Homo sapiens: one gene and its partners. The protein of the gene in region 3 purifies or fractionates together with the protein of the main gene of each other region. This does not show direct contact. Each region holds a gene or a part of one and is shown on either strand. Other genes may lie near its edges. The genes, in order: DET1, IMPACT, ETS2 and ANKS6.

Evidence for each region.
Region 1: the proteins of ETS2 (region 3) and DET1 purify together in Homo sapiens (affinity purification with western blotting, with the first as the bait; one study listed by BioGRID). This does not show direct contact.
Region 2: the proteins of ETS2 (region 3) and IMPACT purify together in Homo sapiens (affinity purification with mass spectrometry; one large-scale study listed by BioGRID and IntAct). This does not show direct contact.
Region 4: the proteins of ETS2 (region 3) and ANKS6 purify together in Homo sapiens (affinity purification with mass spectrometry; one large-scale study listed by BioGRID and IntAct). This does not show direct contact.

What each region holds. Positions count from the first base shown.
Region 1 is NC_000015.10:88,543,882-88,548,179, forward strand, and holds the start of DET1 (DET1 homolog), read right to left. Parts: upstream 2,801-4,298; 5' UTR 2,659-2,800; intron 2,495-2,658; exon of another isoform or gene 2,383-2,494; intron 814-2,382; exon of another isoform or gene 730-813; intron 1-729. UniProt on the Homo sapiens protein: Component of the E3 ubiquitin ligase DCX DET1-COP1 complex, which is required for ubiquitination and subsequent degradation of target proteins. The complex is involved in JUN ubiquitination and degradation.
Region 2 is NC_000018.10:24,434,780-24,443,103, forward strand, and holds part of IMPACT (protein IMPACT), read left to right. Parts: intron 1-3,175; coding exon 3,176-3,261; intron 3,262-5,716; coding exon 5,717-5,839; intron 5,840-8,269; coding exon 8,270-8,324. UniProt on the Homo sapiens protein: Translational regulator that ensures constant high levels of translation upon a variety of stress conditions, such as amino acid starvation, UV-C irradiation, proteasome inhibitor treatment and glucose deprivation.
Region 3 is NC_000021.9:38,807,788-38,812,428, forward strand, and holds part of ETS2 (protein C-ets-2), read left to right. Parts: exon of another isoform or gene 1-2,009; intron 2,010-2,247; coding exon 2,248-2,319; intron 2,320-4,641. UniProt on the Homo sapiens protein: Transcription factor activating transcription. Binds specifically the DNA GGAA/T core motif (Ets-binding site or EBS) in gene promoters and stimulates transcription.
Region 4 is NC_000009.12:98,787,053-98,795,376, reverse strand, and holds part of ANKS6 (ankyrin repeat and SAM domain-containing protein 6), read left to right. Parts: intron 1-4,770; coding exon 4,771-5,273; intron 5,274-8,324.

The DNA of each region.
Region 1 (4,298 bases), on a different chromosome or scaffold from region 3:
CCAAGCAAGGTTCTAAACCCAGCCTAGGCCACCGTCTCTGAGAAAACTCGCCAGAAGAAAAGTGGGAAATTGACTTTACAGAAGTAAAACCACACCGGGCTAGGTACAAATAGCTTCTAGTACTAGTAGACACCTTCTCCAGATAGACTGAAGCATTTGCTACCAAAAATGAAACTGCCAATACGGTAGTTAAGTTCCTACTCAATAAAATCATCCCTCAATATGGGCTGCCTGCTGCCGCAGGGTGATAATACACCTGCCTTCACCTCGTCCATAGCTCAGTGGGTCAGTTAGGCGTTAAACATTCAGTGGAAGCTCCATTGTGCCTATCGACCCCAGAGCTCTGGGCAGGTAGAACACATGAACCGCACCCTAAAAAGACACTCTTACAAAATTAATTTTAAAAACCGGTAAAAATTGGGTAAGTCTCCTTCCTTTAGCCCTACTTAGAGTAAGGTGCACCCTTTATCAGGCTAGGTTCTCACCTTTTAAAATCATGTATGGGAGGGCGCCGCCTATCTTGCTTAAGCTAAGAGATGCCCAACTGGCAGAAATATCACAAGCTAATTTATTACAGTACCTACAATCTCCCCAACAGGTACAAGATATCACCCTGCCACTTGTTCAAGGAAACCATCCCAATCCAATTCCTAACCAGACGGGGTCCTGCCATTCGTTCCAGCCAGGAGAACTAGTGTTTGTTAAAAAGTTTCAGAAACAAGGACTCACTCCTGCTTTGAAAAGACTTCACACCGTCATCCTCACGCCAATGGCTCTGAAGGTGGATGGCATTCCTGCTTAGATTCATCACTCCTGCATCAAAAAGGCCAACAGAGCCCTACTAAAAACAGGGGTCCCCAGGCCTCGGTCAGGCCCCTTCTAAAACTGTGCCTAAGTCAGGACGTGTATTTGCAAACACCACTTGGAGGGCCGGTACCTCTAAGGAAGTCTCCTTTGCAGTTGATTTTATGTATACTGTTCCCAAAGCCAGCCTGTACCCACGAAGAGCAACACAATCTGCTTGTCCCAAAAGCAGGAAGTGTCGACCTTGTAGCAGGATTTGGGTGCTCTGGGAGCCAAACTGGATGTGTGGAAGTGCCAAAGGTGCAGAAAAAGAACTCCAAAATGTTGACTTTTACCTCTGTCCTGGGAATCACCCTGACGCTAGCTGTCGAGATACTTATCAGTTTTTCTGCCCTGATTGGACATGTGTAAACTTAGCCACCTACTCTGGGGGATCAACCAGATCTTCATTCGGTAACTCGTGCTTCTCATCCTAAATTATGTACTAAAAAAAAAATTGTAATCCTCTTACAATAATATTACGGCATGTCATGGAAATTAACATTTTATATTCCAGGATTTGATGTTGGGACTATGTTCACCATCCAAAATAAATAAATAAATAATAGAAATAAAAATCCTGGTCTCATGGAGCCCACCCAAGCCAATCGGGCCTTTAACTGCTCTAGGTGACCCTATGTTCCAGAAACCCCCTGACAAAGTTGATTTAACTGTTCCTCCACCATTCTTAGTCATAAAAGATACCCTCCAAAAAGTTCGAGAATATCTAGATAGGCAACAACAGGAACGAGAAAATAACATCCCCTGGTATCAAAACATGTTCCACTGGAACCCCTGGCTAACTACTTTAATCACTGGGTTAGCTGGACCTCTCCTCATCATACTATTAAGTTTAATTTTTAGGCCTTGTATATTAAATTGGTTTCTTAATTTTGTAAAACAATGCATAGCTTCTGTCAAACTTATGTATCTTAAGACTCCCCTTGTTAAAACTGAGGAATCAATGATTTGATTCCCCAAAAACACAAGTGGGGAATGTAATGCCCAACCTGGTTTTTACTAACTCTGTTTTTAGACTCTCCCTTAGCTAAGAGAGCCAGACAGACTCCATCTTGGCTCTTTCACTGGCAGCCCCTTCCTCAAGGACTTAACTTGTGCAAGCTGACTCCCAGCACATCCAAGAATGCAATTAACTGATAAGATACTGTGGCAAGCTATATCCACAGTCCCCAAGAATTCATCTGATTGATAACACCCAAAGCCCCACGTCTATCACCTTGTAATAGTCATAAAGCCCCTGCACCTGGAACTGTTTACTTTCCTGTAACCATTTATCCTTTTAACTTTTTGACTACCTAACTTCTGTAAAATTGTTTTAACTAGACCCCCCCTCCCCTTCCTAAACCAAGGTATAAAAGTTAATCAAGCCCCTTCCTCAGGGCCGAGAGAATTTTGAGCGTTAGCGGTCTCTCGGTCACCGGCTAATAAAGGACTCTTAATTCGTCTCAAAGTGTGGCGTTTTCTCTAACACCCCTGGGTACAACACACTAACTCACTGTGTGGTACTAAGTCCTTTACCCTTGCTGGGTCTCAGTTTCCCTATGGGAGAAGGTGCACATGTCCCTCAATTCCTTGCGACGGCCTCTAAACCAGAAGGGGATGCCAAGGGGCGGGCACACATACCCAAAAGGGCGCCCCCGGAAAGAAAAGCCTGGGGCGGGGCCTCAAAGGGAAGAGAATGCTGAGGGAGGGCGGGGGCCGCGGGGCCTCTGGGCATCAGCGTCATGCAGGGAGGAGCCTGCCGGGGAGGGTCTGACGGGCTTGGAGGCTGGGCCAAAAATGGTAAGTCCTCACCTGTCTGGTCCGGGCTCAAAGAGCCAGGGCGAGGGATGCCCCAGCCTGTTCTGTGCGCGCCTCCCCCTGCCCCGCCCCCGCCATGCCCCAGGACTCCTGCACCCGCGGCTGCACGTTCCCGTTTCCGCCAGCCACCGGAACTGCGGCCCAGCAAAAAGGGAAGTAGGGGAGAGCACGGCACTGTTCAGCCAACACTAAGAGACAGGTACAGCGCACCCTTGTGCCCGGAGGAAGGATCGAAGCCGTAGAGGCTCCATGGCTCCGAAGGAAAAATTAAAATGGCACCTAACCTGGCAATCTCTGTGAGTCCCAATGGCAGTGTCTCTGCACCTGCTGGGCACATTTGAAAAAATATGAATAGAATTAATTTTTCACCTATTGATTAGATGCTGAGAAACTTCCTACTCTGTTATCTTCTAGATGGCGAGCACCTTGAAGACTGAGATTGTATTGATCATCTCTGACTAACAGGGAATTTGCCTTGCTAGTTTTAAGATGGAGTTGATTTTAAAATGATGTCACTCTGGCTCTCGTAGGCTCCTGCTTCCCTAACAAAAAGACCTTCAACATCATTAATTATCAGAGAAATGCAAATCAAAACAATGAGATACTACTTCATACCCCTTAGGATGGCTATAATATCTTTAAAAGGAAGATATCACATACTGGTGAGGAGGTGGAGAAATCAAAAGCCTCATACACTGCTGCTGGGATGGGTGCAGTCACTTTCATGGGCGTCCGTGTGAAGAGACCACCAAACAGGCTTTGTGTGAGCAATAAAGCTGTTTATTTCACCTGGGTGCAGGTGGGCTGAGTCCGAAAAGAGAGTCAGCGAAGGGAGATAAGGGTGGGGCTGTTTTATAGGATTTGGGTAGGTAAAGGAAAATTACAGTCAAAGGGGGCTTGTTCTCTCACGGGCAGGAGTGGGGGTCGCAAGGTGCTCAGTGGGGGTGCTTTTTGAGCCAGAATGAGCTAGGAAAAGGACTTTTACAAGGTAATGTCATCACTTAAGGCAAGGACCGGTCATTTACACTTCTTTTGTGGTGGAATGTCATCAGTTAAGGTGGGGCAGGGCATACTCACTTCTTTTGTGATTCTTCACTTATTTCAGGCCATCTGGGCTTATATGTGCAAGTCACAAGGGATGCGATGGCTTGGCTTGGGCTCAAAGGCCTGACATTCCTGCCTTCTTATATTAATAAGAAAAATAAAAATAGTGTTGAAGTGTTGGGGCGGCAAAAATTTTTGGGGGGTGGTATGGAGAGAGAATGAGCGATGTTTCTCAGGGCTGCCTCAAGCGGGATTAGGGGTGGCGTGGGAACCTAGAGTGGGAGAGATTAAGCTGAAGGGAGGTCTTGTGGTAAGGGGTGATATTGTGGGGATGTTAGAAGAAACATTTGTCATATAGAATGATTGGTGATGGCCTGGATATGGTTTTGGATGAATTGAGAAACCAAATGGAATAACAAAAGGAGAAAAACAGGTATAAAAGGTCTAAGAATTGGGATGACTCAGGATATCTGATTAGAGAGTGCCTAAGGAGATTCAGCATAGTCCTGCCAGCAAAGATTATTTATTTACTTCAAGAGTTAAGAGTGGCAGTTTGTGGATAGCACCTGGAGATATCAGCTGTGATGGCT
Region 2 (8,324 bases), on a different chromosome or scaffold from region 3:
TATATATATATATATATGTGTGTGTGTGTGTATATATATGTGTATTATATAAGTGTATATATATGTGTGTATATATATGTGTATATATATGTGTATATATATGTGTATATATATGTGTATATATATGTGTGTGTATATATATATATAAAAGCTAGGATTTGGTGATTAATTAGATGTATATTTAGTTGTTGTACCTACTTTTTTTTTTTTCTGAGGTGGGGTCTATCTCTGTTACCCAGGCTGGAGTGCAGTGGCATGATCATGGTTCACTGTAGCCTTGACCTCCTGGGCCCAAGTGATCCTCCCACCTTAGCCTCCTGAGTATCTGGGTTTATAGGTGTGCCACCACTGGCTAATTTTTGTATTTTTTTGTAAAGAAGGGGTCTTGCTACGTTGCCCAGACTTGTCTGAAATTCCTGGCCTCAAGTGATCTATCTGTCTCTGCATATCAAAATGTTGAAATTACAGGCATATGCTACTGTGCCCAGTCCTTAATTTTTATTTAAATATTTTGCATGTGAATATTTTGAATAAATGAAAATAACTTTTGATAAAACAAAAAGTAAATACACTTAAAATACTTAGAATATGATACTGTTTAAGAGAAAATGAAAAGGATTACAAGTTTTTTATAGTATTTGACTTTGTGATGCTCTATTATAGCAATATTTAATTTAGAAATCTGAGAAAATAATTTTTGAAATTTTCTACATCTCTTCACATTTCGATGTATCATGGCATGTTAGGTTTTAATGTTGGTGAGTGAGGCTTCTTGAATCAAAAATTACACTGGATAAAGTCAAACAGACAAGGAAGACTGTATTCAAGGCCGCTGCAATAGGGGAAGGAGGCCAGAACTAAGTGTGAACTCAACTCCTCTGAAACAAAAGGCAGAAGGGTTTTTAAGGGCCAGGATGAGCTAGTGGAAAAATACTGAAAGATATTATGTGGGGCAGTTAATCGGGTGTGTTGGGCATATTGAGTTATTGTTGAGTTTGCAAATATTTCTCTTTGTGAGTAGGCCATCTGTGTTTACTAATAGGTACCCGTTGAAGTTAGCCTCCTATTCTCCCACAGAGACTGGAAGATAAGGGCAGTGTCTTCTTTGATGCTGTGTTTCAAAGGGATGGTTTCCAGGTCCTTGAGAAAGACATTTCCTGGGTTGTAAAACCAATTAAAGTTTTCTGTAAAAAGATTTACATATATCTCAAAGAGATGGAGAAGGAATTTACAATGACAAGTTTTCTGAAGAAAATGCTCTAAGAAAAGGGAGGTAAGGGCCTAGAGTCAGGAATGGGCCCATATAAAGTTTAGTCGAGCTGAGGTTAAGGCTGTTTCAGTCAGGCTTTTGGAGTCAGTTTTTTAAATAGTGTCATCTCTTTGTGTCTGTTTTCTCATCTGTAAAAAGGGGATAATATTGTAAGCATTAAACTAGCAGCTATCATTTTTTTGTTCTTTAAAAATTTTATTTTTTTATTTTTTTGAGATGAAGTCTTGCTGTGTCGCCCAGGCTGGAGTGCAGTGGTGCAATCATAGCTCACTTCAGCCTCCAAACTTCCAGGTTCAAGTGATCCTCCCACCTCAGCCTCCTAAGTAGCTGAGATTACAGGCACACACCACTGTGCCTGGCTAAGTTTTTTAATTTCTTACAGAAACGGAGTCTCGCTTTGTTGCTCAGGCTGGTCTCAAACTCTTGGTTTTAAGCTATCCTCCTACGGTGCTGAGATTACAGGTGTGAGCTGCCACATCTGGCCTGTTTTTTTTTGTTTTGTTTTTGTTTTTGTTTTGAGAAGGGGTCTTTTTCTGTTGCCCAGGCTGGAGTGCAGTGGCACGATCTCCACTCACTGCAACCTCCACCTCCCAGGTTCAAGCAATCCTCCCACCTCAGCTTCCTGAGTAGCTGGTATTACAGGCACGCACCACCACATCTGGCTAATTTTTGTATTTTTTTTGTAGAGATGGGGTTTTGCCAAGTTGCCCAGGCTGGTCTCGAACTCTTGAGCTCAAGTGATCTGCCCACCCCGGCCCACCAAAGTGTTTTGATTACACCACGCCCGGCTCTGGGATGTTCTTATTTCAAAAATCTTCTCATCCAGCTTATAATATTGAAAATTAGGTGACAGAAACTCAGATCAAGTGATTAGTTTAACTTCACACAGCTTAGTGCATTTTAGTGAATAGCTTTACTGTTATATCAACCAATACAAGTATTTAGTTTTAGTACTAGGAATTGTGGGTGTGATGGGGAGGATTTGAGGGTATAGAATTATTTAAAAACAATGTTGTTTTCTTCTGTCTCTTGTTTCGAAAGTTTTGGTGGGTGCTGATGAGTAGTGATAAAGAGAGATAATGGTTTCAAGGGAAACTTTTAGAGGAAGGAGGTGAGGTGTTGCTATATAGTAGTGTGGTGATATCTTTAAACACATACCATACTTACTACAATTAGTGTCTTTTTCTAAAGAGCAGACACTTGGGCCTTTATTTTATTGCTGCTACCATCATTTAACATAACTATGGACATGACTTTAAAACCTGTGACACATTCTTTTTCTCAGTGATCCTTTGAGATGGATTTAGTTACCTGAGGCAACCAAACATCATTTGGAACCAAAATGAATCAATTTAGGCAATAGAATGTTTTGTCAGAAACAAGATATGAATATAAAATTGTTGAATTGTCTTTTAGGTCTTGTAAATTGACTCCCTGAAGGAGTTTCCCATATGCTTTACATTCTTTCTTGTTGAGATAAGTATACTAAATGATAAGTGTACCAAATAAGGGGTTTGAAATTCTTAAAAAACTTTAAAAAAGCAAGCAGTGATCAGACATCGATACTGAAAGATTGTATCCACTTACAGAAACTAAGTCACATTTATATTTCTTTAATCCATCTAGTTTGGAAATGTTTATTCCCCTCTTTGGTTACAGCTCTTCTGCTTATTTTAAAGTAAGCCATGTTAATTTTGGAGTCAACTGGAATTTTTAACGTTGCTATAACCTGTATTAACTACTCAGACACAAATGTTGATAAACCCCAGGTTTTTATAAATTATTTTAAAAAAGAAATGGTTAGATTGTTTATAATGTCTTGGATTGCAAATGTCTGTATCTTCTTGAATTTGAGAAGATGATTTTTGAAATAACAATTTTTTTTTTCCCCTGAATTTTGTTTAGTCAGAATATCGGTGAAAGTATTCTTTACCTGTGGGTGGAGAAAATAAGAGATGTTCTTATACAAAAATCTCAGATGACAGAACCAGGTAGGATTGAAAAATACTATCAATACTCTTTTAACTTATAATAACTACATTTTTATGTAGATACTCTAGTTGAAATTTAATGTGAAAATCTGTATTCTGGTTTATGGTTTGTATATTATAAAATACAAGTTTCTCTGAAAAGTTTAATTGCTCATGTAATTATAGTTATTTATTTCTATAAGGTTTAGCCTCTTTGATTTTGTATTACAGTATTCCTCCTCATCTGAGATTTGGCTTTCCATGGTTTCAGTTACCTGTGGTCACCTGTTGTCTGAAAATATTAAATGGAAATTTCCAGAAATAATTCATAAGTTTTAAATTGTGTGCCATTCTGAAAATGTTATGAAACCTTGGGCTGTCCCATTCTGTCTAGGGTCTTGTCTAGGATTCTACATTGCTTTCCATTGTTGTTTCTCTTTACTCTCCTTTAGTCTGTAAACAGTTGTTCAGTGTTTCCTTGACTTATAACCTTGACACTTATGAAGACTACTGATAGTTATTTTGTAGAATGCCCCTCAATTTGGGTTTGTCCATTGTTTTCTCATGATTGGAGTGAGATTAGTAGCTGGGAGTGGTGGTGTACTCCCAGCTACTTTTAAAATTTTTTCTACAGACGAGGTCTCCCTATGTTGCCCAGGCTGATCTCAAACTCCTAAGCTCAAGTGATCCTCCTGCCTTGATCTCCCAAAGTGCTTGGATTACAGGTGTGAGTCACTGTGCCTATTGTATCATATGCCTTATTATTGGTGATATTTACCTTGATGTCTCGGTTACGGTGGTGTTCGCCAAATGTCTCCACTGTAAATGCTGTAGTCAGGGTTCTCCAGAGAAACAGAACCAATTGAATATATGTGTGTATATACATGTGTGTATGTACCCACACACAAAGAGAGAGAAATATATTTTAAGAAATTGGCTTATACAGTTGTGGAAGGTGGCAAGTCCAAAATTTGCAGGATAGGCTGGCAGGCTGGGGACCCAGGGAAGAATGAATGTTGCGGTTTGAAAACAAAGATGGTCTGCTGGAAAAATGTCCTCTTCTGGGGAGGTCAGTCTTTTAATGTTAAGGCCATCAGCTGATTGGATGAGGCCCATATGGAAGACAGTCTGCTTTACTCAAATTCAACTGACTTAATTGTTAATCTCATCCAAAAAATACCTTCAGAGAAAAATCTAAAATAGTGTTTAACCAAATATATGGGTATTGAGGCTGGGCACAGTGGCTTGCACCTATAATCCCAGCACTTTGGGAGGCCGAGGTGGGTGGATCACCTAAGGTCAGGAGTTCAGGACCAGCCTGGCCAACATGGTGAAACCCCGTCTCTACTAAAAATACAAGAATTACCCAGCACGTTGGGAGGCCGAGGCGGGCGGATCACGAGGTCAGGAGATCGAAACCATTCTGGCTAACACGATGAAACCCCGTCTGTACTAAAAATACAAAAAATTAGCCGGGCGCGGTGGCGGGTGCCTGTAGTCCCAGCTACTCGGGAGGCTGAGGCAGGAGAATGGCGTGAACCCGGGAGGCGGAGCCTGCAGTGAGCCGAGATCGCGCCACTGCACTCCAGCCTGGGCGACAGAGCGAGACTCCGGCTCAAAAAAAAAAAAAAAAAAAAAAAGAATTAGCCAGGCGTGGTGGTACGCACCTGTAATTGCAGCTACTTGGGAGGCTGAGGCAGGAGAATCACTTGAACCTGGGAGGCGGAGGTTGCAGCGAGCTGAGATGGTGCCACTGCACTCCAGCTTGGGTGACGGAATGAGACTCTGTGTCAAACAAAAGTAAACAAATATATGGGTACTGTGGCCTAGACAAGTTGACATGTAAGATTAACCATTGCAGTCACTGTCTTTCTCTTTGTAGCTTGAGGGAGATACTTTGAAGCTATGCTAATATCCTGTTTCTCCTTAAACTTTCTGCCACTAATTTTAGTATCTATCCATGGAACTTGTCAACAATATTTATTACTGTGGTGTTTGCCTGATGATGATTTTCTATTTTCTTCATTCCTTCCTCATTTAGTAATTGGAATTCTATTATGAGGAAGGGATGTCTCTTCCCATTTATGTATTTATTTATCTGTTTATTATTTATATCAGTATGGACTCATGTATATTATTTCAGTCCATGGGTTAAAATGCCATCCTATCATATTTTTTTGTTGCTCAAATTGTTCTAGCTTTGACCTTTAAGAGCCCCTTCAGGTTAACTCCTGTGTTCTTTTTATAAGCCCCATCTCTTTTTGAGCATTTCCCAGTTTGTGGATCCACATGAGGTTCCAGGTTCATCTTGTAGTTTCCTTGCTCCAACTCAGGAATCAACCAGTTCTCCTACGGGCTGAGTGCTGGTTCCTTTCGTTGAAGAGTGGTATTTAGAACCCAAGACCCAGTGATTTTTTTTTAAAAAGCATCGTTTCTTACCTGCGTCATAAAGTAATTGTGTCTCATATTCACATAGGCCCAGATGTAAAGAAGAAAACTGAAGAGGAAGATGTTGAATGTGAAGATGATCTCATTTTAGCATGTCAGCCGGAAAGTTCGCTTAAAGCATTGGATTTTGATATCAGTGAAACTCGGACAGGTATAATGTTACTAACTAATTTCTTTTGAGGAGAGTGGGTTGGTAGTATTATGTATTGTTCTTTGAGATGATAGAGAAATTTACTAATTTTCTCCAGTTTTAGGAAGGAGTTATTAATTTGCAGATAAGATTAATTTTTTCCTGCCTGTTGGCAATTTTGGTGTTTGCCAAGTCTTATCAGAATGGCAAGGAAAAAATGGAAATTTACTCTTTTCCCCCTACTTTCTAGAGTTTTGATTTAGTGATGGAAGAAATTGAAACTAAGAAAGGCTATTAACGTTTTTAGTTAACATCATGTTTTTATATTTCTGTATTGAAATCCTTAGCTGTTTCCTGATGTTTCAGGATTAAATTTTAGTCTGTGCTCACAAATACAAATATATTAACTGAAAGTGCAGCCCTGGAAATTAAAGCTAGTAAAATGCCTTTAAGAGGTTTTTTTTGAGAGACAAGGTCTCGCTGTGTTGCCCAAGTTGACCTTGAACTCCTGGGCTCAAGTGATCCTTCTACCTCAGCCTCCGAGTAGCTGGGACTACAAGCATGCACCATTGTGCCCAGCTTGAGTTCAGTTTTTGTTTGTTTGTTTGTTTTTTTGAGATAGAGTCTTGCTCTGTTGCCCGGGCTGGAGTGCAGTGGCACGATCTCAGTTCAATGCAACCTTGCCTCCCAAGTTCAGTGATTCTCCTGCCTCAGCCTCCTACGTATCTGGGATTACTGGCACATGCCACCATGCCTGTCTAATTTTTGTATTTTTAGTAGAGATTGGGTTTCGCCATGTTGGCCAGGCTGACCTCAAATGACCTACCCACCTCATCCTCCCAGAGTGCTGGGATTATTATAGGCGTGAGCCACCACGCCCGGCCTAGTTTTCGTTTAAACAAATTTGTTTCGTAATCGAGTAGTATTCAACATAAAAATAGGTTGCTGTGATATTATGTTTCATTTTAATATTTTAAAATTTTGAATGTTATTGTTAGTTTCCCTAAGCCTCTTAGGAAAACATGGTAGACCAGGGGGAATATTCATTCTGTTTGAAGGTGAGGGGTTTCCTGTGTCATTACACAGTAGCTTTTAAAAGGTGCTCTGAGTTTTAAGGCTTTTGAATGGTGTCCAGGACTAGTAGAAGGGAACAAAGAGGAAATGAAAGAGTGGGGAGCATCCAGGGCTCTCATTTATGCTCTAGCCTAAGTAGCTCCCATTTTAATCATTTATTTGTGTGTGGATTTGACATATGATATCTTTTGAAAACAGGATCTACCATGAAAAGAAAAAGGATAAAAATCATACTCATAAATAAATACTATCAATTGGTCAGTAGTTCATATTGACCCTAATACTGTATTTGACTTATTACTATGTTAGTACAGCAGTCAAAATCAATTCAGGAAAAGAACAGTATCAGAGGGAAGGTGTAAAACATCTTACATAAACCTACTTTCTTGTCTTGAATAACTTTTCATCCTAAGTGAGGCAGGTAGTAGTAGCCAGGACGATTAAGTCTCTCAACAGAATTGAGGGTTAATTAGTGATTCTTTTTTTTTTTTTTTTTTTTGGAGATGGAGTCTTGCTCTGTTGCCCAGGCTGGAGTTCAATGGCACAAACTCGGCTCACTGCAACCTCCGCCTCCCAGGTTCAAGCAATTTTCCTGCCTCAGCCTCCCGAGTAGCTGGAATTACAGGCACACGCCACCATGCCCAGCTAATTTTTGTATTTTAGTAGAGACGGGGGTTTCACCATGTTGGCCAGGCTGGTCTCAAACTCCTGAACTCAGGTGATCCACTCCCTCGGCCTCCCAAAGGGTTGGGATTGCAGGCGTGAGCCACCACGCCCAGCCATGATCCTTAAACTTGTTTTAAGAGGTATAATAACTGGAAATCATGATGCTCTTTAAGGAATACCAATTGGATGTATTATTGATGTATTTAATTCCATCATATGAAGTAGAAACAGTTTCATTAGCAGAAGGCATTATATTATAGCTACACAATATAAAGAATATAAATTCATAGTTTTCCCAACTCAGAGGTCTAACAACAGTGAAACTGATAAATAAATTTTATATTAGCAGCTATAAATCTTTGGTTTCAGGACTCCTTTACACTCTTAAAAATTATATATTAGATATTGTACCAACTTACACTACTGACTGCAGCAGTTCAAGATTAGTCCCAACCCACTGCTTCCCCTGGGTAACCTTGGCAGGTGGAAATCATTTATAAATCAAGTATTTTAATCTTATGTACAATATAGTTAGAAACTTTTTACTTAAAATTATAATTTAAATTTAATTTTGGTAGATAGCGATTAATGGTTATTTTAGTTGATTTGCCATGTAATTTACATTTCTTTCCCAGCTGCCCCCCCATTTCATTTTTTTCAGTATTTGAATGTAAGGCTTTTTAAAAAATAAAGTTTCTTTTACATTTCTAGAAGTAGAAGTAGAAGAATTACCTCCGATTGATCATGGCATTCCTATTACAGACCG
Region 3 (4,641 bases):
ACAGAATCAAGTCAGCAAGCAGTCTGCAAGCCTAAGGAAGAAAAAGAGCTGACCCATCCGGCTCTGGATGGATAACTGGCAACACCCAAGATGTCTATGATTTTGGCCTTCTGTTTGAGGCTTGTTTATTTCTTTAATCAGCAGCTACCAGGACTTATTTCATGCAGAGAAATGACATAAAGCTCTAGAGGAAGGAGCATTTCACATTGGAAGGAGTAGTGAGAAGGGCCTGATCTGATAATATCAGGATGGGTGGGAAGGGTCCATTCCTCATCATTCATGTTCTCCCGGCACAGAGGACTGTGTGGAGGACTCAGGATTTAGGACCATACTCAACTGGGGTTTGATCTCCACTTTGCCCTGCGGTGGCCCCTCTGGTAGCTATGTGGATCCTGGGCAGATTGTCCATGTTGCTGGGCCTCCGTTGCTTCACTGTATGACGTCTGCCTCTCAGGGATGCAGGAAGATTCAATTAGGTAGGAGTGGATGGTCCCCCAGCACGGGGCTTAGCTCTTAGTAACTAGGCATTCTGGCAATGGCAGCCATCAATAGGAGAGACTATTGATTGTTGAGTGAATATAAGTGGCATAATCCACCAAGTGGAGATTCTGAGTGAATGTGGCCACTTTGGACCCAAGACTGCTGCCCCTCTCTGTCCTCTCATAGGACTATTATTTATTGCCAGTGCTGACCAGCCTTTGTTGGCTACCATGATCATTACCTGCACTCCGAGTGTTTTAACAGAATTTTCTGATGCCTCTGGCCTCACCTGCTGCCTTTTAGCCAAGAGGGGTGTGTGTGTATGTGTGTGTGTGTGTGTGTGTGTGTGTTGGGTGTGTGTTGGGTAGCAGGGTTCTTGGAAGGTCTGGTTTAGCCATAATGTTGATCATAAAGAGAAAACAAGAAAATAAATGCAAATTAAATAGTTCGGTGAGCCTTTGTTATTTCGCCACATCCAGTAAGTTCTATCAGTTGAATGTTGTCTGAATTACTTAAAAAGTTCTCAGTTGTAAACAGGTAAGAGCACCCAGTGGAGGCCATGGAGCTAGGCTTAGAGCTTTGCCACCAGCCTTCAGTTCCATAGCCATGAACCTGGGAGGGCAAGGAATCACCCTAGAGGTGAAGGCCATTCATCGGTGCTAACCCAAGGTCTCTGAAAATGAGTTTTAGTTACTCTATTATCTAAGTATCTTTCTTACTGATATGTAACTTACCTGGCTGAACAATTACATTTTAGAGCTCCAAATAAATTTTCAGCCTATTATGTCATTGTCCAATTACAAGCCTCATTGTAATAGCCATGTTAAAAACAATAAAGCCGGTGAAATTGATTTCAGTGTATTTCAAATTAACCTAATATATTCGAAATATTATGTATGTATAAAAATTATTGAGCTTTTTTCTTTTTTCCACTAAGTCTTTGAGAGCTAGTGTGTATGTGTGGATTTGTACTAGCCACTGGTTGAGAGCTCTGTAGCCACACATGGCAAGTGGGTACCATATTGCTTAGCCCAGGCCTAGTAGAAGATTAAGACTCAGTCAGAGGAAGTAAGGCAGATCCGTGCTTGGAATCAGTTCCTCTTGAAGAAGTGCACAGCCAAGCAACACACAAAGCAGAAATATTTTGAGCTCTGTATTCAAAGCAGGAAGATCTGGGACCATGTAAGGGGGTTTGGTCTTCAGTTCTCCCTTTGATCCCTTCCCTGGGTGTGTGCTTTCTTACAGCCTGGAGAGTGGAAGGGAAGAGAGGGGGCTTCCTGGACTCCTTTCCTGTCTCTAGAAATGACCCCTGCAGCTGTCCTGAAGCTCTCAGGTTAAGCTGATTGTGTCCAGAGCAGACAGGAGGCGGCCCACTGCCCCACTGTACCCACCCAAGCACTCACCTAAGCTGGCCATGGAAATGTGAATGAAAAGCCTGACCCAGGCCCTCTTGCCCTGCTAACCCAGCAAGGAGGCTCTGACCAGCCAGCCAGCAAGTGACTTTTTCTGTGACATCTAAGTGGAATTCAGTGAGGAATCAGCATTATTATTCAATCACTGAAACAGCATATCCCATTGTGATACTGAGAAATGCTTTCCTCTTGAGACCTTTGGGAGGACAGCCATTTAAACAAGAATTCCCTGCATTCACTTTTGAATTACCTGTTAGCTGTAGAACTCAGCCAGGATCAAGTCTTGATGCCACCAATGATGAGTTTAGTGTACTTAATCTTTTGCCTCTTTGACTTTTTTTTTTTCTTTTTTAAGATGAATGATTTCGGAATCAAGAATATGGACCAGGTAGCCCCTGTGGCTAACAGTTACAGAGGGACACTCAAGGTGAGTGGGCAAGTCTTAATTTTTTTTTTTAATTGGAAAACTCGATCTCTAGGAGGAAAGAAAAAAAAGGCCTGGGTCCCAGAAAACTGGTTGTAGCCCTAGCTTCTTAATTTATTGGCCATGTGACTATAGACTATTTGCTTACTTGCTCTGGTCCTCAGTTTTCTGGTCTGCAGAATGGGTATCTTGATGTGTGTTGTTCTTCTCCTCCACGATATGAAACCAAAGGCCTTTATAGCTTGTTTTCTGAGGCTCCTTCCAGGTGAAAATCCTATAACTCCCAATAAAACAGCTGGAGAGGCTGTCTCTACTGCCTTTTCTGTCTACCCAGGAGTTTCCTTGGTTGATGGGAAGCTGTTTAAGAACTGAAATGAGAGAGAAGAGGCAGACAGACCCAACCGCTACAGCTCCTATCAGAAAGGGCAGCGCCCGTGGAATTGTAGGTAGCCTGTTACTGGCTCAGAGAACAAGCAGGCCTACTTATGTTAAACCAAAAACCAGATGAAAAATGAAAGCGCCCTCTCTGCTGCATAAACATTTTATGTAGCTTCTATCATCATTCCTTTTGGGAACATTCTTTAGTAGCACAAACTGGTAATCTCCCACTTGTCTTCTCCAAATATGACAGCAAGATTTGATTGTTTTCAGTATTATGTAGTAAACATGTTTCAGAAGCATGATTTTAAAATTGGCCTCCTCAAAGTTTAGCGTCTTGCATAATGATGATGTACGTCTCTGGCATATTACATTTTCCTTTGTATATCATTATTGAGGTTATTTGTCTGATATGACCCAAAGAGGCAAAACTCAGCACAGTCCTTTCTGCAGTATTCTAAAGGTCATCAAACTTCAGCCTAGTGAGTCTGCTTGTTTGATTTGGCCGGACATTTTAAGCATGGCAGAAGTGGTACAAGAAATCATGGTATTAAGTTGAAACCACACCCCTTAGAAAAATCCTTCTATTAATTCAAATAATTTGACGATGCTTATGCGGTTTCTGAAAAGAAGCAGTCGTTGCTGAAATTGATGTGTTGAAATAGGAAGCACAGATTTGTATTGTCTTTTGGCTTCCTGGCTTTAAAAAAAAAAAAAAAGAATTTACGGTTAGGAAAGGCATTTCTTAGTCACCTGGGCAATGCTTGTGGGAACTTTAAAAGTTTATTGGAGGTTTCACCAAAATTAGCTCTGCTCTAAAGTAGTTTGTAAATCCAGATGAGTAATTTGCACTTGCCTGATTGATCGGTTTTCCTCGTAGATCTCAGGCAGTTGGTCATCATTGACTTGGATTTTTTTGGGCTGGGCTCCAGCCTCTGCCTGCCCTCTTTTGTAATGCGTCATTCATTGTTCTGCATTTCTAAAAAGAAAGCGGGTAACCGATTTTATTTGTAAATGTGTTACACATTTTCTTATTGATGACTCAACAGATGGGTCATTGTATTACACATAACATGGGATTTCCAGCTTATGTTGGAAAAATATAGTCTTTCTTCACGTGTTCCTCAACAATTTAGGCGATGATGAATCCAGATATTATCGGTTACTTTCAAATGAGTCTTACATTAAAAGGTATTTCTTTCATAAATGTTATGTAAGATGCTCAGAAATCGAGTTAGTGTAAGGTTTTATCTTTCTGTGTGTCTCTTCTTTTCTGCAGATAGTTTAGTTTAACTTTAAACCTATTTCCTTTGGAAATCTTTCCCCTTAGTAGGTGATTTGGGTTTTTTTTGTTTTGTTTTATTTGTTTTTTCGTTTTTGGTTTTAAGCAACAGGGTCCTTCTCTGTTGCCCAGGCGGGAGTACAGTGGCTTGATCGTAGTTCACCGCAGACTTGAACTCCTGGGCTCAAGTGATCCTCTGGCCTCAACCTCATAAAGCACTGGGGTTACAGGCATAAGCCACCCCGCCTGGCCTGGGGGCGGGGAGGGGGTTCATTTTTAAGACACTTTACTTGTTATAAAATGAAACGTTAAGGAATTTTGTCATGTATTACTATTTTCCAAACCATTGGAATTGATGTGGAAAAGCATCTCTAGTTTCAGTTAAATTGTTTCATGGCAAACATTTCAAAATAAATGCTTCCAAAGATAAAGTAGTGTATTTCATTGTTTGATTTTTCAGTGTTTATCGGGTCATTTGCCTTTTAACTGCATTGTGCTCAGACGGCCTTGTCAAGGGTCATTTTTCTTACACACACAGCCTAGTTGAATTTTTCTCAATGTAACAGGAGGGTCAGGTGTTTGGTAAAGGGGTCTCTGAGGCTCCTCTCGACACCATTGTAAGATTCTGTTATTTTCAGATTTGTGTATTTAATATATTAACTTAA
Region 4 (8,324 bases), on a different chromosome or scaffold from region 3:
AGTCATGGAAGGTTCTAGGCAGAATGAGTGACAGGATGAGAGTTACGTTTTGGAAAAATTACTTTCCTTGAAGTGTGAGAATAGATTAGATACTCTAGGGTAAGCTAGAGTCAAAAAGGCTGGTTAGGTAGAGTTTGCTGCAGTCTGAGTGAGAGGTGATGGTGGCCTAGACCAGAATGGAGACAGCGGAGGGAGGGCACCCAGATGAATTTGTGATATATTCAGGGAGTAGATCAGCAGGAGTTGACGACTGGCCCTTGGGGAGGGGTTAAGAGAGACAGCAAGGATGGCATCTAGAGATCTGGCTTCTGTGAAGCCTGCCATGATATCTCCCTGTTCTCTGGTCCCTCCGCAGCAGAAAGGCCTCTGTGGTAGCATCCATCACACCATGTTAATGCTGACTGGCTTCCTCAGTACCCAAACCTGGCCACACATCAGAATCACCAGGATGCTTGTCTAAGTGCAGATTCCTGAGTTCCTTTTCTGGAGATTGTGATTTAGAAGGCCCAGGGCAGTGAGGGGAGTAAGAGACAGGGACTCTGTGTGAGAAGAGGCTCCCCAGTGATTCTCTTGTATGGTAGGTTTGGGAGCCACTGATGTGTTATGTGTGTCTCATCTCTGCAATCCACCAAGTGCGTGCACAGGGGCCCTGGTGAGCCCCCTGAGGAATTTACTGAGTGAGGTTTGTGACTACAGCACTGACATGCCTCAGAGTGTCTCAGAGACCCCAGATCATCAGTTTTAACCAAGTTCTGCAGGATAGTCTTGAGCCTGGGTATTTTAAAATGTGCTGTTCCTCAGTTGGTGTGACACCGACTCTATATTCAGGTAGCATCTCTGCCTGTGTTGAGTTGTGCTCCAGCTTTCTGCTGCGTAATTCATAAGAAAAGGTCAAGTTGAGGAGTAGTATATATGGAAGACTTCCAGAAGGATGTACAGTGTGTCTGTCCCTCACATCGGGGTAGGCAAATGAATGGCCTGTGTGCTGACACCTTCCAGCCTTGTGCTCTTCTTCCTTGGATCTGGATACGCCCCCAGAATCCTGCTCAAAACCACACCCCTGGCAGCCACCACGCTGGGTCTGAGCAAGCATCTATTTATCGTCCCAGCTCTCTGTGTGGATCAGGCCAGACTATTAGACACCCTGTGCCTTTGGTCTTTTGTGGGTGTTTTAGTATTAGAAATGGTGACCTTAGTGTTTTTTCCTGTTCTTTTTTTTTTTTTTTTTGAGACGGAGTCTCGCTCTGTCACCAGGCTGGAGTGCAGTGGCGTGATCTCGACTCACTGCAACCTCCGCCTCCTGGGTTCAAGCGATTCTCCTGTCTCAGCCTCCGGAGTAGCTGGGATTACAGTCACGTGCCACCACGCCCAGCTACTTTTTGTATTTTTAGTAGAGACCGGGTTTCACTGTGTTGGCCAGGCTGGTCTCAATCTCCTGATTTCGTGAAACGCCCACCTCGGCCTCCCAAAGTGCTGCGATTACAGGCGTGAGCCACCGCGCTGGGGCATGTTTTTTCATGTTCTTAAAATAATAGGTAACCTTTGGCCAGGTGCGGTGGCTCACGCCTGTAATCCCAGCACTTTGGGAGGCCGAGGCGGGCAGATCAGGAGGTCAGGAGATCGAGACCAGCCTGGCCAACATAGTGAAACCCTGTCTCTACTAAAAATACAAAAATTAGCTGGGCGTGGTGGCACGGGCATGGTGGCACGCACCTGTAGTCCCAGCTACTCGGGAGGCTGAGGCAGGAGAATCGCTTGAACCTGGGAGGCGGAGGTTGCAGTAAGCTGAGATCGCGCCACTGCACTCCAGCCTGGCGACAGAGCGAGACTCCATCTCAAAAAACCAGAACAAAACAAAACAAAAAACAACCTTTATTGAGCACTGACTTTCTGTCAAGCACTGTGCTAAGTGCTTTAAATGAATTAAGTCATTCAATCCATACAAAACCTTAGGAAGGAGGTACTATTGTCATCCTCATTTCATAAATGAGGAATTGAGGAACAGAGAAGTTAAATAACTTGCTCAAGTAACATAGCTACCAAGTGGCGAGTCAGATTCACACCTAGGGAGGTGGCTCCAGAGCCTGTGCTCCCAGCCATGAATCCTGTAACTGATAGTTTCCCTCTTGGTGTTGGTGCCTGGAAGCGGCTTGCCAAATTTGCCAGAGACTTCTCTCCAAGGGACAGGGTTGCATAGTGTTTACCTTCCTTCCCTACCCTTCATTTCCTGCCTGCCAGTGGGGCAGAGCTGGACTCTCAGCCCAGTGCTTTGAGAGGGGAAAATGTGTGCCAGCTCTTTAAACACAGGTGTTAATTGCTGAAATTCATCAGTAATCACAGCACCTGTTCAGAAAGCCCCTAGCATGCCCATCTCCGGCAGTTACCTATTAGAAACTTAGCATCCACAACATTATCTCAGCCTTGCTTGGATCCTTTTATATTTTCAGCATAGTTGAGTGCTCTCTTGGGCTACTCACTAATTCAGAAAACATTCCAAATTTCACTATTTCTGCTCTAATTCACCCCTTTTCTTCCTCCTTAAAAATTGGTTATACTGGAGCTTCGATTTTGAGTCCAGGTGCAACTTTTGACTCTATCACGTTCAAATTGAGAGGCTTTAGATTAATTGCTTTCCACTGTAATCTTCAGTTTCCTAATCTGTGAGTTTATCTCGGGGTTTATTAAGATCAAATGAGATAAAAATGTGACGCACCTTGTAATCTGCTGTTAGGGATTATGCTAGATTTTATCTCATGCTTGATAACTAAATAGTGTAATCTTTTAGAAATGTACTACAGTGGAGGATACACCAGTTCTTCAGGGATTTCCACTGCTCACCTCTGGACCTTCCCCTATGTGGTTATGCCATTTATGCATTCATTTACTTGGCTTGTTTGACCAAATTTACTGAGCTCCGATGTGGATCAGCCACTATGGTAGGGGCTGGGGAAACAATATGCGTGGAACCCTGTCCTGTCCTTGGAGAGCCTGCCACTGAATAGGAGAGACAATTAGGGAAAGAGGGCTCACGTGCAGCCAGAGGCGAGCCCGTGGAATTAGGTGCTCAGAAGAGGGGCACTGACCTAGCCTGGTTGAGGGGTGGTCTGGAAGCTGCTCAGAGTGGGTGAGATATGACTCCTGAAGCAGGACACGGTGGGGGTGTGCTGAGTAGATGAGGACAGGAGAGTCCTCTGGTGGGGTCAGGATGGTGAAGGTGTGGGGAAGGCGGGAAGGTGTGGTTTGGGAGCAGGAGGAAGTGAGGTTGGCAAAGCAGTCAGGTCTTCGGCAATCAGAAGCTGGGGAGTGACAGATTTGGGTTTGGAGAATATCATTTGGGAGTCGCATGGAGGATGGGCAGGAGGGAACGAGACTGGAGGCGGGGAGACATTGGGGTGCAGCTTTCTGCATTGAGTTGGTTTCAATTTGCCTTGTCCTTTTCCACTCTGGGAGTGGAGGTCAAGAGGCCCAGCCCCCTGCAGCTGATGGAGCTGTGTCACCAGGCTCTTGCTTCGTGGCTGAGTAGCCCCATGCTGTTCAGGTTCACATCCCAGAAGGTATTCAGCCGGAGCCTCAGACAGAGTTCAGCCCTGGCCTGGCCGCCAGCCGCCAGGAGGAGGGAGGTCTTGGGTTTAGATGAGGTGCAAAACTGGCTCCCGGGAAGGAGGGCTGAGCATCGAGAAACCCAGAAAGCTGCCTCACAGATGCAGACATGACAGTGGCTTTGTGGTCTCGAAAACCTGGAGTAGACAGCCCCTGTCTTGTCATTGTTTTCTTGTTAGTCCAGGGCCGCTTCCAGCTTGGAGATACACAGCTCCGAGCCCACCAGAGACACCACAAAACAGAACTTTTCTGCCCTCTGGTGTTAAAAGAAGGAAGAGATTTTGCTGGGAAGAGGTACCTGTTTTCCTTCTCCTGGTACTAGGAAGTTGGTGGGTGCAGATCTTTCTCTTCAGGGGCCCAGCAGTGACTTCATTGAGGAAGATCTGGCCTAGGCTGGGTCCTCAGCCGCCTGCAACAAACATTCCTGCCAGCAGGTGGCAGCAGGCCTCCAGGCCGCAATGCCCAGCCTATCTGCTGACCACAACCTTGCCACACCTCTTGGCATGGGGTGTGTGCTTTTGGGGATGGGGAGGGTAGAAATGAATCAGACATGGGCTCTGCCTGTGGGGAAATTAGAGCACAGGCAGAGAGACAGATTCCCAGGCTATAAAGCAGAATAAAATCGACTGTCTGAAATGTAGGAGGCAGCATGGTGTAAGAGAAAAAGCAAGGGCAGCGGCATTCACACAGACCTGTCCTGACCCTGATGCCACCCCTTACCAGCCGGGTAACCCTTGGCACGTTGAATAACGTAACATGAACAATTATAATACCTAACAATCGCTAACATTGATGTGATGTTTCCTGTGGCCAGGCACAGAGCCAGGTGCTTTACATGTAACTCATTTAATCCCCAACAACCCTTGAAGTAGGTACAGTTATATCCCCATTTTGCAGATCAGGAAATGAAGGCACAAAGAAATCAAAGTTCTTCCTAAAGGTCATGCAGCTGGTGGTGGGGAGAGCTGGATTTGAACCCAGGCAGGGCAGCTGCTCACCTTCATGATGATGCATCTGCATCCATGTGGCTGGCACAGTGCCTGGCGCCAGAATAAGACCTCTTATCATGAGCAGCTGTCAGGACTAATAATTCATGCCAATTAAGGATGACATAAGCTGGCCCCCGAGTGCTGTGTGTTCAGTGTCACTAATTCTCCATCTTCCTGGCAGATTTGGGCATGTGAGTGTGGCACACCTCCTGTTGGATCACGGGGCTGATGTCAATGCCCAGAACCGGCTGGGGGCCAGTGTGCTCACTGTGGCTTCTCGGGGCGGCCACCTGGGTGTGGTGAAGCTGCTCCTGGAAGCCGGTGCCTTTGTGGACCATCACCACCCTTCAGGCGAGCAACTGGGGTTGGGCGGCAGCAGGGATGAGCCCTTGGACATCACAGCCCTGATGGCTGCCATCCAGCACGGGCACGAGGCCGTGGTGCGTCTACTGATGGAGTGGGGCGCGGACCCCAACCACGCAGCCCGGACCGTGGGCTGGAGCCCGCTGATGCTGGCCGCACTCACTGGGCGGCTTGGAGTGGCCCAGCAGCTGGTGGAGAAGGGCGCCAACCCTGACCACCTCAGCGTGCTGGAGAAGACCGCCTTCGAGGTTGCACTGGACTGCAAGCACAGGGACCTTGTAGACTACCTGGACCCGCTGACCACCGTCAGGCCCAAAACAGGTCAGGCTGCATGCCCCCCGTGGCTTCACAGAGGACCCCAAATTGTGTTTATGTGGCTTAAGCTGAGGATTGCTCTACTGGAAGGACACGCAGAACTCAGAGTCCAGCCCTGCAGACCACTGAGACTGAGGAAGTGGTGTGCTTAAGTATCGGGGGGATTGCCTGTGACATGCAGGTTCTGGGCCCACTCTCTGCAGAGTGATTTGGTAGCCCTGGGCAAGAGCCTGGAAGCCTCTATAACAAGGCTGCTCTCCCCAAGCACATCATTCTGATGCAGGTGGTTCTGGGGCCCTTCTACAACAAGGTTTGGCAAACTTTTTCTGTAAAAGGCCAAATAGACTGTATGGACCATACAGTCTCTGTTAAAACTACAGTAGTCACTTCTGCTAGAGTGAAAGCAGCCTTACATATGTAATGAGTAAATGAATGGGTGTGGCTATGCATATAATATGTAAATGAGTCAGGTATGGCTAGGTTCCAATAAATTATAACTACAAAAACAAGCAGTGGGATATATTTGAGCCATGGGCTATAGTTTGCCAGCCCTTGTTCTACAATAGTGTGCCTGACCTCCTCTGCCCTGATCATTTCTCAAACACTAGTTCATGTAAAATTGATGAAAATTAGTTTTTTAAAAAACATCTAGCAGTGCATCTTTTTTTTTTTTTTTTTTTTAACTTCTTGCCATCTCTCTGGCATGTAAAGAGTTGTCTAAACAATCCTTAGCAAATCTGCCATAGGACATACCACGTTTCAAAACCTTTAATGCACGGTTTGCAATAAGATCGCAACACACAGCCTTGGTACCCTCTGTCTATGTAAAAGGCCTGACTTCGACGGCAGGACTCACAGCCAGGGAGTAACAGTAGGTGGGCTGCAGTGTATATAAACATCTAGCTCTGAGAGGTCAAGCACTGAAGAAAGTAGCTTCAGGCACATTGGCTAAAAAGACCTGAAAGTGTTAAGTTTGTTACCATTGAAAGAATATAGAATAGCCCCATCAATCAAGAGATGCTGAAAATTTGGTAAATGCTTATTAGAAATACACTCTCCAAAAAAAAAAAAAAAGAAATACACCATCCAATCAGAACAAGTCTGAAATAAACATGTTTTAAAAGCCTGTAATGACAGAGAGGTGGCAAAAATGAAGAGGATGCTCAAATGAAAAGGAAAAAGAAGTTTAGGAAGAACTACCTGAAGCCAAGAGACCTCTTACTTTGTCCAGGTGGGAAACTGAGGCCCAGAGAGGGAAGAAAGCTGGTCAAAGGTCACACACCCATTGGAAGCTGAGTGAGTGACACTCAGGAGGTGAGGATTCCATGGGAAGAGCACCTAGAGGTGATTCTCCCACCTGCAGCTCCTGCATGGGCTCTAGAAGCTGGTTTAACACATGACTCTTCTGAGCCTTTGCCTCATCTGTGAAATGGACACAATGACAACTACTACGGGGTGGTGGTGAGCAGAAGGCAGGTTATCCTCTGGCGTGTGAGATACTCAGCCCAGTAGAGTGTTAGGGACTCATAAAGGCTTGCTATTAGAAATTAGGGCCCCAGTCTCCTAGGACAGGGTTTTGTTTTGTTTTTGTTTTTGACACAAGGCCATTGCTCTCCTTTAAAGGTTTGGGTTGTTTGTGGCAGGGATGGGGAAAGGATCTGCCCTTCCCAGGCCCTGCCGTGCCCAGCACACCTGCCATGCTGAATCTCCCCTCACCCTCGCAGGGACCCTCTGAGGAGGGTATTCCCCCATTTTGCAGGGGAGGGAATTCAGGCTCAGAAGTGAACACTCCAGAACTTGCACCTGCCCGTGCCTGCCGAGCTGTGCCTCTTCTGTTGTGCATGCGTTCTCCATCCCAGGTTTCCTTAGCCTCTGCATCTTGAATCTTCACGGAGTGCCCTCGGGCTTAGCTTCTGACAGGCCTCATTTTAGGGGTTGTCCTGGCATCATGGGATGGCGATGCCCTCATTTCCCCAAGATGCAGTGGCTCAGACACATTGGTGGATGTGGCCAAGGTCACTGTCCACTTGGTTCGATGCTGGCTGTGCCCCTGCTGGCCAAGGGACCTTGAACCAGCTGCCTCAGTTCACCAAGCTCCCATTTCCTTCTCCACAAATGGGTGCTGGAGTGATACCCGCCTCAGGGCTGCTGTGGGGTTCATGTGAGATCCTGCCTGGCCCAGAGGGAGCACATGGGAAGTGGATTACTCCATAGTGTTGTCGGCGTTATTTGACAGGAGCGAACCTCGGGTCTTCCAGCAGGATCTGGTCATGTTCCCATTGAGCAGAACTAGTCTGAGGCTCAGTTCTCCCACTCTGTACCTGGGTGGTCTTGGTCATCTTAATTGGCCCTGCAGGACTACAGTGTCTTTTTTCATAAGATAGTCATAATAAAGGCTCTTTTCTTGGGAGATTTTTGTGAGGAATAGTAAGATCAGGCCTGTAAAATTTTCATCGCAGTGCCCTGGCACATAGACGACATCCAATAAATGGAAACTATTATGTTTTGATTGATGATACATTCATTCCGATACTTTACAAAGACGTACTGAGGCCTGCTATGTATCAGGCACCTTTCTAGGCACTTTGGATACATCAGTGAACAAATGAGATCCAAATCCCTGACCTTGAGGACCTTGGCCTTGATAAGGGGAGACAGGCAGTCAGTAGGAAATAAGCATATTAAATATATAGTAGGATAGGTGGTAAGTGCCACAGGGTTAAAAAAAAAAAAAAAAGGGCAGTGTAAAGAGGTTGGGTGTGGCAAAGCTGGGACAATTCATCCTGCTGTGTCAAATGGAGTGGTTGGGCAACCTTGAGAAGGTGGGACTGCAGCAGACATGCAGGACCTGAGGGAGTGTGTTGGCCCTGGGGGATCCCTGGGAAGAGCCCCAGGTAGGGTGCAGGCTGTGCTATTGATAATGACAGATTATGAAATAAATAATAGGAGCCCCAGCTCTTACTGTGCAGTTCCCGGAAATCCAGCCCCCACCAAGGCCTTGGAGGTCCCCTGGTCTCTGCCTTTCATTAGCAGCAGGACAGGGTACTTTTGATGCTG